2 linked regions of the Homo sapiens genome follow. The protein of the gene in region 1 purifies or fractionates together with the protein of each later gene. This does not show direct contact. Each region holds a gene or a part of one and is shown in the gene's direction. Other genes may lie near its edges.

Region 1 (7,637 bases):
GGAGAACTTCATGCTTTATCCAGATGTTGGTATGGTGGAGTGGGACCTGTCCCTCAGTAATTTATGTGGAGGTGATAATTGTGTGAGAGAAAAAGTTTTAAAATATGAGATGATTTTTTTTTTTTGAGACAGACTCTCGCTCTGTTGCCCAGGCTGGAGTGCAGTGGCACGATCTCTGCTCACTGCAAACCGCGCCTCCCAGGTTCACGCCATTCTCCTGCCTCAGCCTCCCGAGTAGCTGGGACTACAGCCGCCTGCCACCATGCCCAGCTAATTTTTTGTATTTTTAGTAGAGACAGGGTTTCACCGTGTTAGCCAGGATGGTCTCAATCTCCTGACCTTGTGATCACCCGCCTCGGCCTCCCAAAGTGCTGGGATTACAGGCATGAGCCACTGAGCCCGGCCGAGATGATCTCTTAAAGACAAAAATTCAGTCTAGTACAGTGCCTGTGGTTTAGTACAAGAGATGGCAGTATTTGGTAATCTTTCACAAACATTTGTTGCAGTTTACAATTTTACTTGGGAAATCCCATTAGTATCGATCACTATCATTTGCTAAAGACTGGAGATTGATTTACTCTTAAGGGGTGCTATGCCTTACTCACCTAAGGGGAACCATACACAGATGGACTCCTGTGCCTGACTAGATTTTATTTCTGACTAGGATTGAGTATCTAAACTATCTATTCTAAGTAGTTATTCTAAATAGTTTGGAATAGTTGAGATACTCAATCCTAGTCAGAAAAAAATAACTAGAGTAACTAGTTATTCTGAATAACTCATATTTTGTTTCTTCCACTTCTCTCTTCATCATGTTCATGTTGTCTTCTGTCTGCGTAAATGTATGGAGTATATTTATAATGGTTATTTAAACTTTTTTTTCTTGCTAGTTTTAACATTGATGTCATTTCTGGGTCTGTTTCTATTGATTGATTTGTCTTCTAGTTATGGGTTATATTTTCTATATTTTCTTTACTTCCTGGGTAAATTTTGGTCGGATGTTAGATTAAGAATTTTATGTTGTTGGACCCGGGATTTCGTTGTATTTTTAAAAATATTTTGGACTTTGTTGTGGGAGGCAGTTAAGTTACTTGGAGTCAGTTTGACTGTTTCAAGGTGTGCTTTTTTTTTTTGCTTTGTTAGGATAGGTTCAGATCAACCTTTCTGCTAGGACTTATTTGAGTTACTGCTAAGGCAGTTTTTTTCTGTGGACGTTGCTGCTCAATGTCTTATGTCTTTCCACTTTGGCTGGAGGCAACATGAACTGGTTATTGCTCTGTTATTCCTTTTAGGTGGTTCTTTCCACGGCATTGGGTAGTTTCTTCATGCACTTGTAGATTACTACTCAGCCAAAGTTGTGGGGTTATTTTTTTTTTGATACAGTATCTTGATCTGTCACCCAGGCTGGAGTGCAGTGGCACAATCACGGCTCACTGCAGCCCTGACCTCCCAGGCTCAAGCAGTCCTCCCACCTCAGCCTCCCAAGTAGCTGGGACTACAGGCATGCACTACCATGCTTGTCTTTTTTTGTTGTTTTTTTTTTGTAGGGATGGGGCTTTGCCATGTTGCCCAGGCTGGTCTCGAGCTCCGTGGCTCAAGCAATTCTCCCACCTCAGCCTCCCAATGTGCTGGGATTACAGGTTTGAGCCACTGTACCTAGCCTCAGGAAAGTCTTAAGGGGACCCCATGTAGATGACCTGAGCTCTCTTTCTGAACAGCTGCCTCTTTGCTGTTTTGCTTTCAAATTCTAGCTGCCTTGGCATCCCTGATCTCTGAACTCAGTCCCCTCAAATCAGCAAAACCACTTGGTACTGTTTGGATTCCCATGAACTATACTGCAGCCCTTTCTAGTCAGTGAGTTGGGAAAACTGTAGAACTTTGTTTCTCTGGAAAGAAAAGTTCCTTTTGTATTGATATATTTGCTTTATAACTGAAGAATACTTGGAAAATATTACACAGGAATGTTAGTTTTGTCAGCCATTCTTGTAAGTAGATTGGCTGTTATTTTCATGCAGTACACACAGCCTTCTACCTTGATCTTTCCTCAGTGAGGAGTAAAGAGATTTTGGAGAGTTCTCCTGGTGATAATAAAACTATTTCTGATAACCCGTGTGTTTCTTTGTTATGGAAGAAAAATGCTCACTTGATTGCTTTTTTTTCTTTTTTCTTTTTTAATTATTATTATTATTTTTTTTTGAGACAGAGTCTTGCTCTGTCGCCCAGGCTGGAGTGCAGTGGCGCGATCTCGGCTCACTGCAAGCTCCGCCTCCTGGGTTCACGCCATTCTCCTGCCTCAGCCTCCCGAGTAGCTGGGACGACAGGCGCAGGCCACCACGCCCAGCTAATTTTCTGTATTTTTTTTTAGTAGAGATGGGGTTTCACCGTGTTAGCCAGGATGGTCTTGATCTCCTGATCTCGTGATCCACCCGCCTCGGCCTCCCAAAGTGCTGGGATCACAGGTGTGAGCCACCGTGCCCAGCCTCTTTTTAAAAATTATTTTCTTTCCCACTCATTCTTGCTGTCATCTTTTTTTTTTTTTTTTAAGAAACAAGTTCTGGCTCTGTCACCTAGGCTGGAGTGCAATGGCACATCTCAAACTCCTGAGCTCAAGTGATCCTCCTGTCTCAGCCTCCTGAGTATCTAGGACTATAGGCATGTGCCACCATGCCTGGCTAATTTTTAAAAATTATTTTTTGTACAGATGGGGTCTCACTGTGTTGCCCAGACTGGTCTCAAACTCCTAGCCTCAAGTGATGCTCCCACCTCAGCTTCCCAAAGTGCTGAGATTACAGACGTGAGACACTGCCCAACCCCTCTCTTTGTTGATAAATATGAATCCTAATCTTTTTTCCAATTGTTAATTGTTCTGCTGTCACTTGAGATAGCTTCAAAAATGAAAGGCTCTTGAGGCCTAAATAGATTAGATGGAAAAGTTCACCTCTAGATAGCTGCTACTGAGATTGTCCTTAGTACCTATCCCACTGGACTCTGACTTAGTTATAGCTATTCTCTCCTTACCTTTGGATATTCACCCAAAACTGGATCTTCTGGGAGGCCAGGAGAGTCTGCTTGGTCCTGATTTTGTGTGGTTAGTGTCTGGGTTATAGAATAACCCTTCTAAGGTTTCCTGGTCCTGTTTGTAACTACCTTAGCTTACTTTTTCCCCAGTATCCCTTGAAGATATTGTCTATGTTTTGCTTTCTTTTGTTTTTATCAACAGGAGAGGAAGGCAAGCCTGAGATTAATCAGCAGTTAAGCCTAGAGTCTATGGAACTTGACGAGCTTGCCTTAGAAAAGTACCCCATTGCTGCACCCCTTGTCCCTTACCCAGAAAAATCCTCTGAGGATGGAGTTGGAAACCCTGAAGCGAAAATATTAAGTGGAACTCCCACTTACAAGAGAAGGGTCATCAGCCTTTTAGTTACCATTGAAAACCACACCCCATTAGTAGAACTCTCTGAATATTTAGGAACCAACACACTTTCTGAAATTCTTGATTCTCCCTGGGAAGGAGCCAAAAATGTGTACAAATGTCCTGAGTGTGACCAAAACTTCAGCGATCATTCATACCTAGTTTTGCATCAGAAAATTCATTCAGGAGAGAAAAAACATAAATGTGGTGACTGTGGAAAGATCTTCAATCATAGAGCCAACCTGAGGACACACAGGAGAATCCATACTGGTGAGAAACCTTATAAGTGTGCCAAGTGCAGTGCCAGCTTTCGCCAGCACTCTCATCTATCCCGACACATGAATAGCCACGTAAAGGAGAAGCCCTATACATGTAGCATATGTGGTAGAGGTTTTATGTGGCTCCCAGGATTGGCACAGCATCAGAAAAGCCACAGTGCTGAAAACACCTACGAATCTACTAACTGTGATAAACATTTTAATGAGAAACCAAATCTTGCTTTGCCTGAGGAAACATTCGTATCAGGCCCCCAGTACCAGCACACTAAGTGCATGAAGAGCTTCAGGCAGTCCTTATATCCTGCCCTTTCCGAGAAGAGCCACGACGAGGACTCTGAACGCTGCAGCGATGATGGGGACAATTTCTTCTCATTCTCAAAATTCAAGCCCTTACAGTGTCCTGACTGTGACATGACCTTTCCTTGTTTCTCTGAGCTTATTTCCCATCAGAACATTCATACAGAGGAAAGGCCCCATAAGTGCAAAACATGCGAGGAAAGTTTTGCTTTGGACTCAGAACTTGCATGCCACCAGAAGAGCCACATGCTAGCGGAACCTTTTAAATGTACCGTGTGTGGGAAAACTTTCAAGTCGAATTTGCATCTCATTACTCATAAGCGAACTCACATAAAAAACACCACGTAAAGTAAATATAACAAATTGTTATTAGTGATTGGGCTTTTCAGTATCTGTATGGTGGGAAGCAGTTACTGTATATGTCCCAGGCAATGTGCTAAGCACTTTACACACATTCCCATGTAATACTTAATTCTCAGCACAACCGTGATTTAGGCAGTATCATTTCCATTTTATAAGTAGGGATGCAAAATCCGTGTCACTAAACTAGTGAATGAACCCAGGATTTGAACTCAGTTACTGTACAACTGTGAGCCAGAAGAAGATACACAACTTTTGTTTAAATTCAATTTTCATTAAAATGAAGGCTCTTGCTAAAGTTATTTTAATTTTGTTTACGTAGTTTCTGACTTTTAGAAGGAGGAGAATTTATTTATATTTTGCCAGTTCTGCAGACATATCTAGGAAAGTAAATGCTTTTATATGTTTTATACTTTTTTTTGCTATAACTATTTGAATGTAATACTTGTATAAGATTGCTGTTCTACATGTGAATTCCCACAGGCGTTCAGAAGTTTTTTTCTGCCCTGTAAAAGTTCCCAAATGGGTAGACTAGTTTATATTTTGATGGCCATTAGTATCCGGAGTTCTCTGTCATGGTTCTGATGCCAGGGGCACATACTGGCATTTAGGACCCAATTGTTTGCAAGGAGTTTTGGAAGTCTAACTGCAGCCCTTTTCTGGAGGCTGGACTTGACTTGGGGAGGGGGAGAAGTACTTGCTCTTTTCTAAGATTTGCCTCCAAATTGCTACTGAAGCACATTACCTGTCTTACTATGAATAATTGTAATTGTTTCTCAGTGAGCATGCTAGCTACTTTAGATATATTATGTAATTTAATCTTCAGAATCTGTGACAGAGAAAAAAAATCTTTGTTTCATAAACGAGGAAACTGAAGTCCTCAGAGGGTAAAGTCAGTTCTTTGCCCAGCACACAAATCACATTGTGGTGAAACTGACATTAAGCTTGGGTTTCTCTGACTCCAAAGGCCATGCAGTCTGCAAGACTGCGGCATTTGTTGGCATTTGCACCACGTAGTAGCACTGCAGGCAGCCAGGGAAAGGGGAGCTGAGATAGGTGAGGGTGGTCCTCATGGAGGCGATTCTGTGTGCTTGCATCCTGGAACCCCTTCATTCCCTTTGTGCTGTACCCAAAGCCTGACTAACATATACAGTTACAAAGCAGCAGAAGACTCTCCAGGACTTCAGGTTTGAATTCTTGTCCCTCTAATCAGATGAGAGATTTCACACTTGGCAGAGTACAATACTGAAGGTCTTAACTGGGTTTTGGTTTTTTAAAAAACACCCATAACATTTCCTCTCCATCTCCAAAGAAAATGCATATAGAAAATTGTTAGATTTTAACCAAAATACTTGATAATATATAGATCTTTAGATATTGCTATTATAGATAAATACTGGAGCAAAATATTATTAAATGGTATGGTTATTAATGTTAAAGAACCACAGAATGTTGTAAATATAGATTCATATACAATTTCTCATTAAAGTCGATTGTATGCCTATCAGCAAAACAATATTTACATGGGTTTTGATTAGGATGGAAGAATGCTCTCATTCTATTTAAATAGACAGTATAAAAGTACAATATTTGCTAAAATTGAATTGTTGCTGGGAATTTTTGCTGGGAGAAAAGATAAAGGACTCTTGAGGACTAATTATATGGAAGGTAGCAGAAGGTGGTCCTACAGAACAGCAGATTGAGGACTAAATATACAAAAAATGCTGGCTACTCAGCTAAGCTCTTATTACTGAGTAGAGGCAGGAAGATACTGTTCAGGTGAGAGAAAAACTGAAACTAACAAAAACATCCCTAACCCAGAGAGAGTTTCTCTCTCTTTGTCATTCTTGTCTTGTTTCTTGTTTGCAGATCCACAGTTGAGACAATGTGCTGCTCTGTATGTCAAGGTCAGACTTTGGCTGTTTGTTTCTGATGTCTCCACTCTTAGGAGACAGGACACCAGCTTCCAGGTTTCTCTGAGGTGCTTTGAAATGTGTAGAAAGATAGTCTCCAGTTAGATTACTTATTAGGCAACTCTGAGATACCATGACCTTTGTTAAATAACAAGAACACCACCTCCTTGCTCTCCTGCTTCTGCCCTCAGTGGGAGAAACTGGCAGGAGCCTCATCAGCACATATCAGGGGCCCTAAGAGTTCAGTCAAAGATCTAATGAGTCACAGGATGGGGGATGAAATTGGGAAAGGTCTGGATTAGCAGAGTTGCTGCAGAAAGAAGTAGAGGGGAATATCTTAGAAGGCACTTGGACAGAATGGGGGTGATATAAAAGATGTATGCTGTCATTTTTGTTTTGGCTCCTAGAAAATATAGCAGAAAGTGAGAATTTGTGCCATACATCCTGTTCTGCACCTTAATATGGAAGTTTGCCTTTCCACACGAGTCTTCCTTCACAATTAACCTCTAATTTTTTTTTTTGCAGTTTTCTCCAGATTTTGGAAGATTACGACAAACTTCCTAAAAGATTAGAAAAAATAGCCCTTTTCAGAAACATTAACATACGTGTGGGTAGAACTAAAATGGCTTTTTGGTATAATACTGTTAATGATTAGTATGCAGAAAAAAATGAAAACCCCGGAAGTGTCAGTTACTGTGAAAGAGGCATATTTTCAGTTGTGCTTATTGTGCAGTTGTACTTAAATACATTTGCTAGATGTAATTCAAGCTGCTTTACCCCCAGGGAATTGAAGGAAAAGATATATCTGCTGGTGAGCTTCAGGCTTTTTATGATGATGGCATTTCACCCTTCTGTTTACAGTGTCAACTGATGGAGATAAATTCCATAAAATTGTCATTAACTCAGATACTAGCCTTCCATGTTAGGTGCTATTCACAAATACTGGATAAAAGTTAATATGGGAATGAAAAACTAAATGCAAGAGTTTATTGCTATGAATGATTGGTTAACTGCATTTTGCAGCATGGAAATCAACACACTATGAGAGTGAAAACTTTGTGCTGAATAAATTGACTCAGACAAATTTCTCCGTTTTTGTCGTTGATGCAGTGATGAAAATGTATATCCAACAGTTCCTTAACATGATTGCTGGAATAGTTAAACAGTCTTTTAAACAGTCGTCATTGATGAAAACAGCATTTTTCCAATGGAATTCAGATGTCAGCAGTTTACATTTTATAATTTAAGAAATTGTGGAATGTAGTTGTTTTGAATGAGGTCGACTCAGAATAGTTTTATTTAGAGCTTTGTTGCTACAGGTGGTAGTCTATTGACACCTCCTCATTTAACATAGAAAATGACTAACCCAATAATTCA
Region 2 (7,000 bases), on another chromosome or scaffold:
CTTTTTTTTGAGAAAAGAGGGTCTCGCTCTGTTGCCCAGGCTGGAGTGCAGTGGCGTGATCATGGCTTACTGCAACCTCAACCTCCCGGCTCAAGCGATCCTACCACATCTCCTCCTGAGGAGCTGGGGCTGCAGGCCCGCACCACCACATCCAGCTAATTTTTTATTTTCTGTAAAGACAGAGTCTCACTTTATTGCCTGGGCTGGTCTCGAACTCCTGGGCTCAAGCCAACCTCCCACATTGGCCTCCCAAAGTGCTGGGATTATAGGCATGAGCCACCTTTCCAGCCAGGTTTTAGATAATCAGTACACATGTGCCTAGTGCCTATCATATTGGACAGTGCAGATTATAGAACGTTTTCATCACAGAAAGTTCTATTGGACAATGCTGCTCTGGACAATTTAGACTTACACTAGAATCAAGACTGAGTAGAAAACAGAATACTTCTGCTGATCATGGTGTCTCATGCCTATAATCCCAGCACTTGAGAGGCCGAGTTGGGAGGATCACTTGAGCTCAGGAGTTTGAGACCAGCTTGGGCAACACAGGGAGATGGTCGTCTCTACTAAAAATTAAAAAAGAAAAATTGGCCAAGTGGTGGCGCGCGCCTGTGGTCCCAGCTACTTGAGAGGCTAATGTGGGAGAATCACATGAGCCTGGGAGGTTGAGGCTGTAGCGAGCATGATCATGTCACTGCACTCCAGCCTGGGTGACAGAACAAGACCCTGTCTCAAAAACAAAAAGAAAACCGAGGCCAGGGGCAGTGGCTCACGCCTGTAATCCTAGCACTTTGGGAGGCCGAGGCCGGTGGATCACTTGAGGTCAGGAGTTTGAGACCAGCCTGGCAAACATAGTGAAACCCCGTCTCTACTAAAAATACAAAAATTAGCCTGGCATGTAGCTCCCAGCTACTGGGGAGGCTGAGGCAAGAGAATTGCATGAACCTGGGAGGCGTAGGTTGCAGTGAGCCAAGGTAGTGCCACTGCACTCCAGCCTGAGGGACAAGAGCAAAACTCCATCTCAAAAAAAAAAAAAAAAAAAGAAAAGAAAATTGAATACTGGAATTATATCATTTGGTCCTTGCAGGTTTGTGTTTTTTGATTAATACTTAGTACTGTAACAGGTAAACCCCACAAGTCTAAATGGCTTTGCCCAGTTGAAGTTTCTTTCATGCATGGAGCCTGATAGGTGAGTAGTTTTCCTCCAAGCAGTGATGTAGGGCCTTGAGCTCCTTCCATGCAGTAATTCTCTATCATCAGCATATAGCTTTACTAAGGTCCCTATGCTTGCCTGCATCAAGCTATCAAATGGGAAAATGTGGCTTTTTGCAGATTAGGCCTGGAAATGGCTCACATTTCATTGCCTTGGGTACAGTCATAGGCCACAGCTAACTTCAAGGAAGGCTGGAAAATGTGGAGCATATATAGGCATGTAACCGGGTTGAAGAGGAAATGGTTTTGGTGGGCACCTGTCCAGTATCTGTCACAAGTGTTTTGTCCTTACCTGCCCTGAGAAATAGTCTCAAGAAACAGTCCTAGAAGTTTGCTATTGCATTTACTATAAGGATATTTTTGAGGATTATTTTTTTCAGTGTAACCCATTATCTCATATATGATGATCCATACTTGCCTTGATTGCCATGGAAAGCTTTATTTTTTTCTTGAGTTTCTAGTGTTATTTGTTTTTTTTTTTTGGAGAAAATAACTGTCACTTTTTGTTTTGATTGTGAGGAAGCTCACTACCAAATGTGTATTACTAGTACTGTGTGGAATCCTTTTTTTTTTTTTTTTTTTTTCATACGGAGTCTTTTTGTGATCTCAGCTCACTGCAACTGCTGCCTCCAGGATTCAAGCGATTCTTCTGCCTCAGCCTCCCGAGTAGCTGGGACTGCAGGTGTGTACCACCATGCCCAGCTAATTTTTGTATTTTCAGTAGGGATGGGGCTTCACCATGTTGGCTGGGCTGGTCTTGAACTCCTGACCTCGAGTGATCAACTGCCTCGGCCTCCCAAAGTGCTGGGATTACAGGCGGGAGCCACCACACCTGGCCCTCTGTGTAGAATCCTAAAGTGTGCGTGACTCCATTATAACTTTCTCATATGCTTGGTTTGCCCGTAAATTTCTGTTTTTTGATCCTGGTTTTTCTGAATTTATGTTTTTCCATCTTTTTGTGTATGTTTGTATTTATATTGTGTAAAATGTCTCAACTTGTTTGGTATAATACAGTGAGATTGTAAACAAGCAGTCTCTTTCAATGCAAATGTTTGAAGATCATCATTGGCTTTTATTCCTGTTTGTATTTTTTCTTTTTTGATGTGGAACTGTAAAGTCCCAGAAAAGAACACAACAAGAACCCTTGTTTCATCACCCAGATTTTAACATCTTTAACATTTTGCCATATTTGTTTCAGGTCTTGATTTTTAAGGTAAAGTTTTGAAAATACATAGAGCTCAAATTTCCATGATGACCACTAGACCCAACTGGAGTGAATCTTTATCCTGTACTTAAGGCTGTCTACACTATATTCCCAAAGAATGAAATCCAGTTATCTTCCCATTCCTTTGTACCTGTATGCCAGGCAAAGGGAACTCATCTCATCGTTTACTACCTTATGATCTTTTTTCATCTCACTGCTTCCTTCATCTGAACAGCTCTCCCTGATAATTTAGACCTTTCCAAATCCTGAGTACCTTTTATGGTCCAGCTTAAGTGCCTTCATTTCCGTGAAGCCTATGTCTCCCCTGTTGTGCCTATAATCCTTTCCTTTCTTGAACATTGTAGCATAGTGGGTTTGTGTAATCGGTTTCTTTTTTCAACTTCATAGTACTTGGTTCATTCTTTTAATATGGAACTTGTTCTCTGCCAAGCCTGTTTTGAGGGGTTGTGGCAGAAAGGAGTTATGTTTATTCTGGAATATCAAATAGTTAAGGTTATATGAAATGTATGATTTAAGTCTTGGTGAAAAGTAGAATCTCTGATTTGAAAAGCGTGTTTGCATTATATTGTAGAAAGCTTTGGATACTGTGCTAATTATGTTGAATTTTATTATATAGGCAGGAGGGAGTTAGGACCAACCCTTCCTGCTTTTTTCTGTCTTTATTACTGGCATCTCTGTCTTATTAGCAAGCTCAAAGACCTTAAGGTGAAGCATGCCTGGGTTATTAAAGGACTAGCAATGGCCAGATAATGTAGAACAGTGGTCTTCAAAGTGTAATTCTTGGATCAGCAAAATCTACATTACCTGGAAATTTGTTAGAAATGCAGATTCTTAGGTCCCTTCCCAGACATACTGAATTAGAAATTCTGAGGGTGAGGTCCAGCAATCAGTGTTTTAATGGGCCCATCAGATGATTCAATACACTGACACTACATGTCTCCTAGATATATCAGAGTTAGAATTACATAGAGGACTTGTTAAAACGTAGATTGTTGGGGCCTGAGAATTTGCATTTCTAACAAGTTCATAGGTGATGCTGGTGACACTTGGTCAGGAACCATTTGGAGAACCACTATTGTCAGTTATTACGAAGCTCTTTGGCCATTACTCCCGGTGAGTCAGGAAGTCCTTAGGAGTTTTTGAGCAGAGGAGTCACATGATCTTACGTACATTTTCAAAGGTTTACTCTGGCTGCTGTGTTGAGAATAGGGTGGAAGAGGCAAGACTGAGAGCAGGGAGACCAGGTAGGAGACTGTTGGAGTAATTCAGGCAAGAGATGATGGTTTGAATCACGGTGTTATCAGCAGAATTGGTGAGAGTGGTTGGATTCTGGAGATAGTTTGACTACAGAGCTGGCAAAATTGATGTTGAGTTTGGTATAGGATATGAGGGGAGGAGGAGAAGGATCAAGTATGAACCAAGAGTTTTGGTTCAACAAATGGAAGGATGGAGTTGCTATTTAGTAAGATGGGGCAGGTTGTAAAAGGAGTAGGTTTGGGGGAGGGGTAGGGTGGGAGAGAAGGAATGTGGGCCTTCCATGTTGGACGTTTTAAGTTCTGGAGTGATCTTGCCAATGGTATTTAGATGGAATGGGTCTAGTTGGGAACACTAGGTGGATGGGAGAGGATGGAAAAGAGAGATCAGAGCACTGAGCCCTGGGCATACCACCTATACTACAGTTTTGGAGACATGTGCTGTTTTAGGTGCTGGAGATACATAGTATTACATTCATTCCTTCTTTCAGCAAGCCTTTGTTGAATGGCCACTAATGTGCCATGCGTTGTTTTAGGTGCTTGGAATACAGCAGTGAACAAAACAGAAAAAGTCAAAAAGTCTGTAAGTTTAAGGAACTTACAGTGTAATTGGGGACTAGACACTATAAACCTAATAAATACAAGAATGTCGTTTGGCAATACCTGCCTTGAGGAAAGATAAAGCAGAAGCAGAAGGGTGGGAATGCCTGGGGGTGGAGATTGGGAGGGCTTGCCGTTGTATATCAGATGGCCAGGGAAGGCCTTACTGATGAGGTGATACTCAAAGGGAGACCTTAGAGAAGTAAGGGAATTGACCTAGTAGATATCTAGGGGACCAGTATCATGGCAGAGGGAACCAAGAAGGCATAGCCCTGAGGCAGGGCTGTATTTGATTTGGGTATAGAAGGAGAAGAAAAAGAAGCTTGGATTCTGAACCTGGGACCCTACAACATATGGAGCTCAAGGAGATGGAGAGGAAACAGAAAGGAGAATGAGAACAAGAACAAGGTAGGCAGGTGCAGAAAGTGCATCAGGAAGGGAGTGATTAACTGTGTTGCATACTGCTGGCTGATAGGTCAAAGGAGATAGGGCTGAGCATTGATAACAAATTTAACATTAAGTCTTTTCAGGTGACCTTGACAAGAGCAGTTGCAGTGGAGTGATAGAGATGGAACCCTAGTGGGGGTGGGTTCCAAAGGGAATGGAAGGAGAGGATTTGGAGACAAATGTATACAAATCTACAGACGAGTTTTGCTCTAAGGCTGAGTAGAGAAATGGGGCTGGTAACCAGAGGGGTAAGTGGGAGGAAAGTCGGAGGATGTTTTTGAGATGGGAGAAGTAATGGTGTATTTGTTTGCTGAAGGGAATGATTCAGTAGAGAGGGAAAATTTAATGATGCAGGAAAGCAGGGAGAATTGCTGGGAGAATGTCTTAGAGTAGGGAGGGAGGGATAGGATCTAGTGGATAATTGGAGTGGAGGTGGCCTTATCTAGGAGCAACAGTTTATTCATTTTAACAGGAGGGAAAGCAGAGTGTATGAGAACTGATGCTGATAGGTGGAGAGGTAAGCGGTGGGAGCTTGCAAAATTTCTATTCTGACTGCTTCTGTTTCCTCAGGAAATTAGGAAACTAGATCTTTCAGTGAGAGTGAGGATAGAGGAGGAAGTGTTGGAAGTTTCTAGTGAGAGGAGTCGTAAAAGAGCATAATAGAATCAGGAAAAGTCAAGTATTGTCTTATGTACTCTGCAATGATTTGTGCACTTCATTCCTACCTGCCTTTTCCTTTGCCTGAATGCCCTTCTCCATTACCCTTCCATCTGTTAAACTTCGTCTTTTATCCTTTAAACTCAGTTCTATGTTCCCTTCTTTGATCCAGTCAGGCAAAGTTGAGCATTTTCTTATCTGTGCCTCAGCTTTGCAGTAACTCCCATGTTGCTTTAATTATCAGGTTTATGTTTTATCTCTGTCTCTCCTACTCAGTGGTGAGCCCCTGGGAGTAGAGGCTGAATTTTTTTTATTTTTATTTTTTTGAGACCGCGTCTTGCTCTGTTGCCCAGGCTGGAGTGCAGTGGCATGATCTTGGCTCACTGCAACCTCCGCCTCCCAGGTTCAAACAATTCTCCTGCCCAGCTTCCCGAGTAGCTGGGATTACAGGTGCCCACTACCATGCCCTGCTGATTTTTGTATTTTTAGTAGAGACAGGGTTTTGCCATGTTGGCCATGCTGGTCTTGAACTCCTGACCTCAGGTGACCCTCCTGCTTCAGCCTCCCAAAGTGCTGGGATTACAGGTGTGAGCCATTGCGCCTGGCCAAAGGCTGAATATTTCTAGTGCCTGGGATAGTGCCTGGCTCATGATAGGTTTTCATCAAATTAGAATAACAAAATAATTCTTTAAAAGGAGAGTGTCTTAAGAGTGCTCATCTTGAAAACTGTGGTATTCTCATGCTAAAGGAAGTGCCTGGCACTTAAAGAGATACTAAATATTTGAACTGACAATGAGTTGTACTGTGGATGTTTGAGGTAAACAAACACTTCAAATTAGAAATCTTATGCATCTCTGTGCATCTTGCATGTCTCTATGCCCTTCTCTTTTTATATCCTGTGGATTTTTGAATGGGTCTCATGATTGACATGGTAGGTACTCAATACTTATGAGTGAAATGAATGAATGAACCTAATTAAAAAGGACTAATAATGGAGAAACTACAATAGTAGTTCAGCTGTGAGATGAAGGTGGTAGCAATGATGAGGATGGAAATGCCAGAGATACTACACAGTTCCCCACTTAGGAAGGGCAGAAGGGAAGGCTCTAATGCTAATTAATTGTGTACTGTATGCTATACCATACCATGGTTATTCCTTTCCATTTTAAAGATGGTAAAGCTGAGATTCAGAGATGTTTAGCAGTCTTCATGTTATGTCTATCTGATTCCATGAAAATACCCCTTTTTCTGCTGCCATAGAGCCTTGTTAATAGCCCTCCCATCCCTTTAAAACTGTGAATTCTCCCCACTTTTCTAGTTGGTTTCAGTGGATTGAGTTTCAAATGGCTTCTGAATTAAGCAGAGATGTCCTTTTGTAGGCAGCTTTACATTGCTTTACTAAGCTGAAACAAATTGTGGTTGAAGATATAGATTAGGAAGTGTTAAATATGAAGGTAATAACTGAAACTGTTATAGTGGATGTGCTGCCAGAAGACAAGTTTATACAGAAATTCTGCTTTCACTGACTCTGGGATCTCACCAAGTCTATTAATCTGTTAGAAGCCAGAGGAACTGGCAGGAATATAGATTTTCTCTTTTTTTTACA

Evidence for each region.
Region 2: the proteins of ZNF597 (region 1) and NSMCE2 purify together in Homo sapiens (affinity purification with mass spectrometry; 4 studies listed by BioGRID and IntAct, with this or other methods). This does not show direct contact.

Annotation. Positions count from the first base shown.
Region 1 is NC_000016.10:3,433,122-3,440,758, reverse strand, and holds part of ZNF597 (zinc finger protein 597), read left to right. Parts: intron 1-3,220; coding exon 3,221-4,335; 3' UTR 4,336-7,637. UniProt on the Homo sapiens protein: May be involved in transcriptional regulation.
Region 2 is NC_000008.11:125,094,860-125,101,859, forward strand, and holds part of NSMCE2 (E3 SUMO-protein ligase NSE2), read left to right. Parts: intron 1-4,594; exon of another isoform or gene 4,595-4,698; intron 4,699-7,000. UniProt on the Homo sapiens protein: E3 SUMO-protein ligase component of the SMC5-SMC6 complex, a complex involved in DNA double-strand break repair by homologous recombination. Is not be required for the stability of the complex.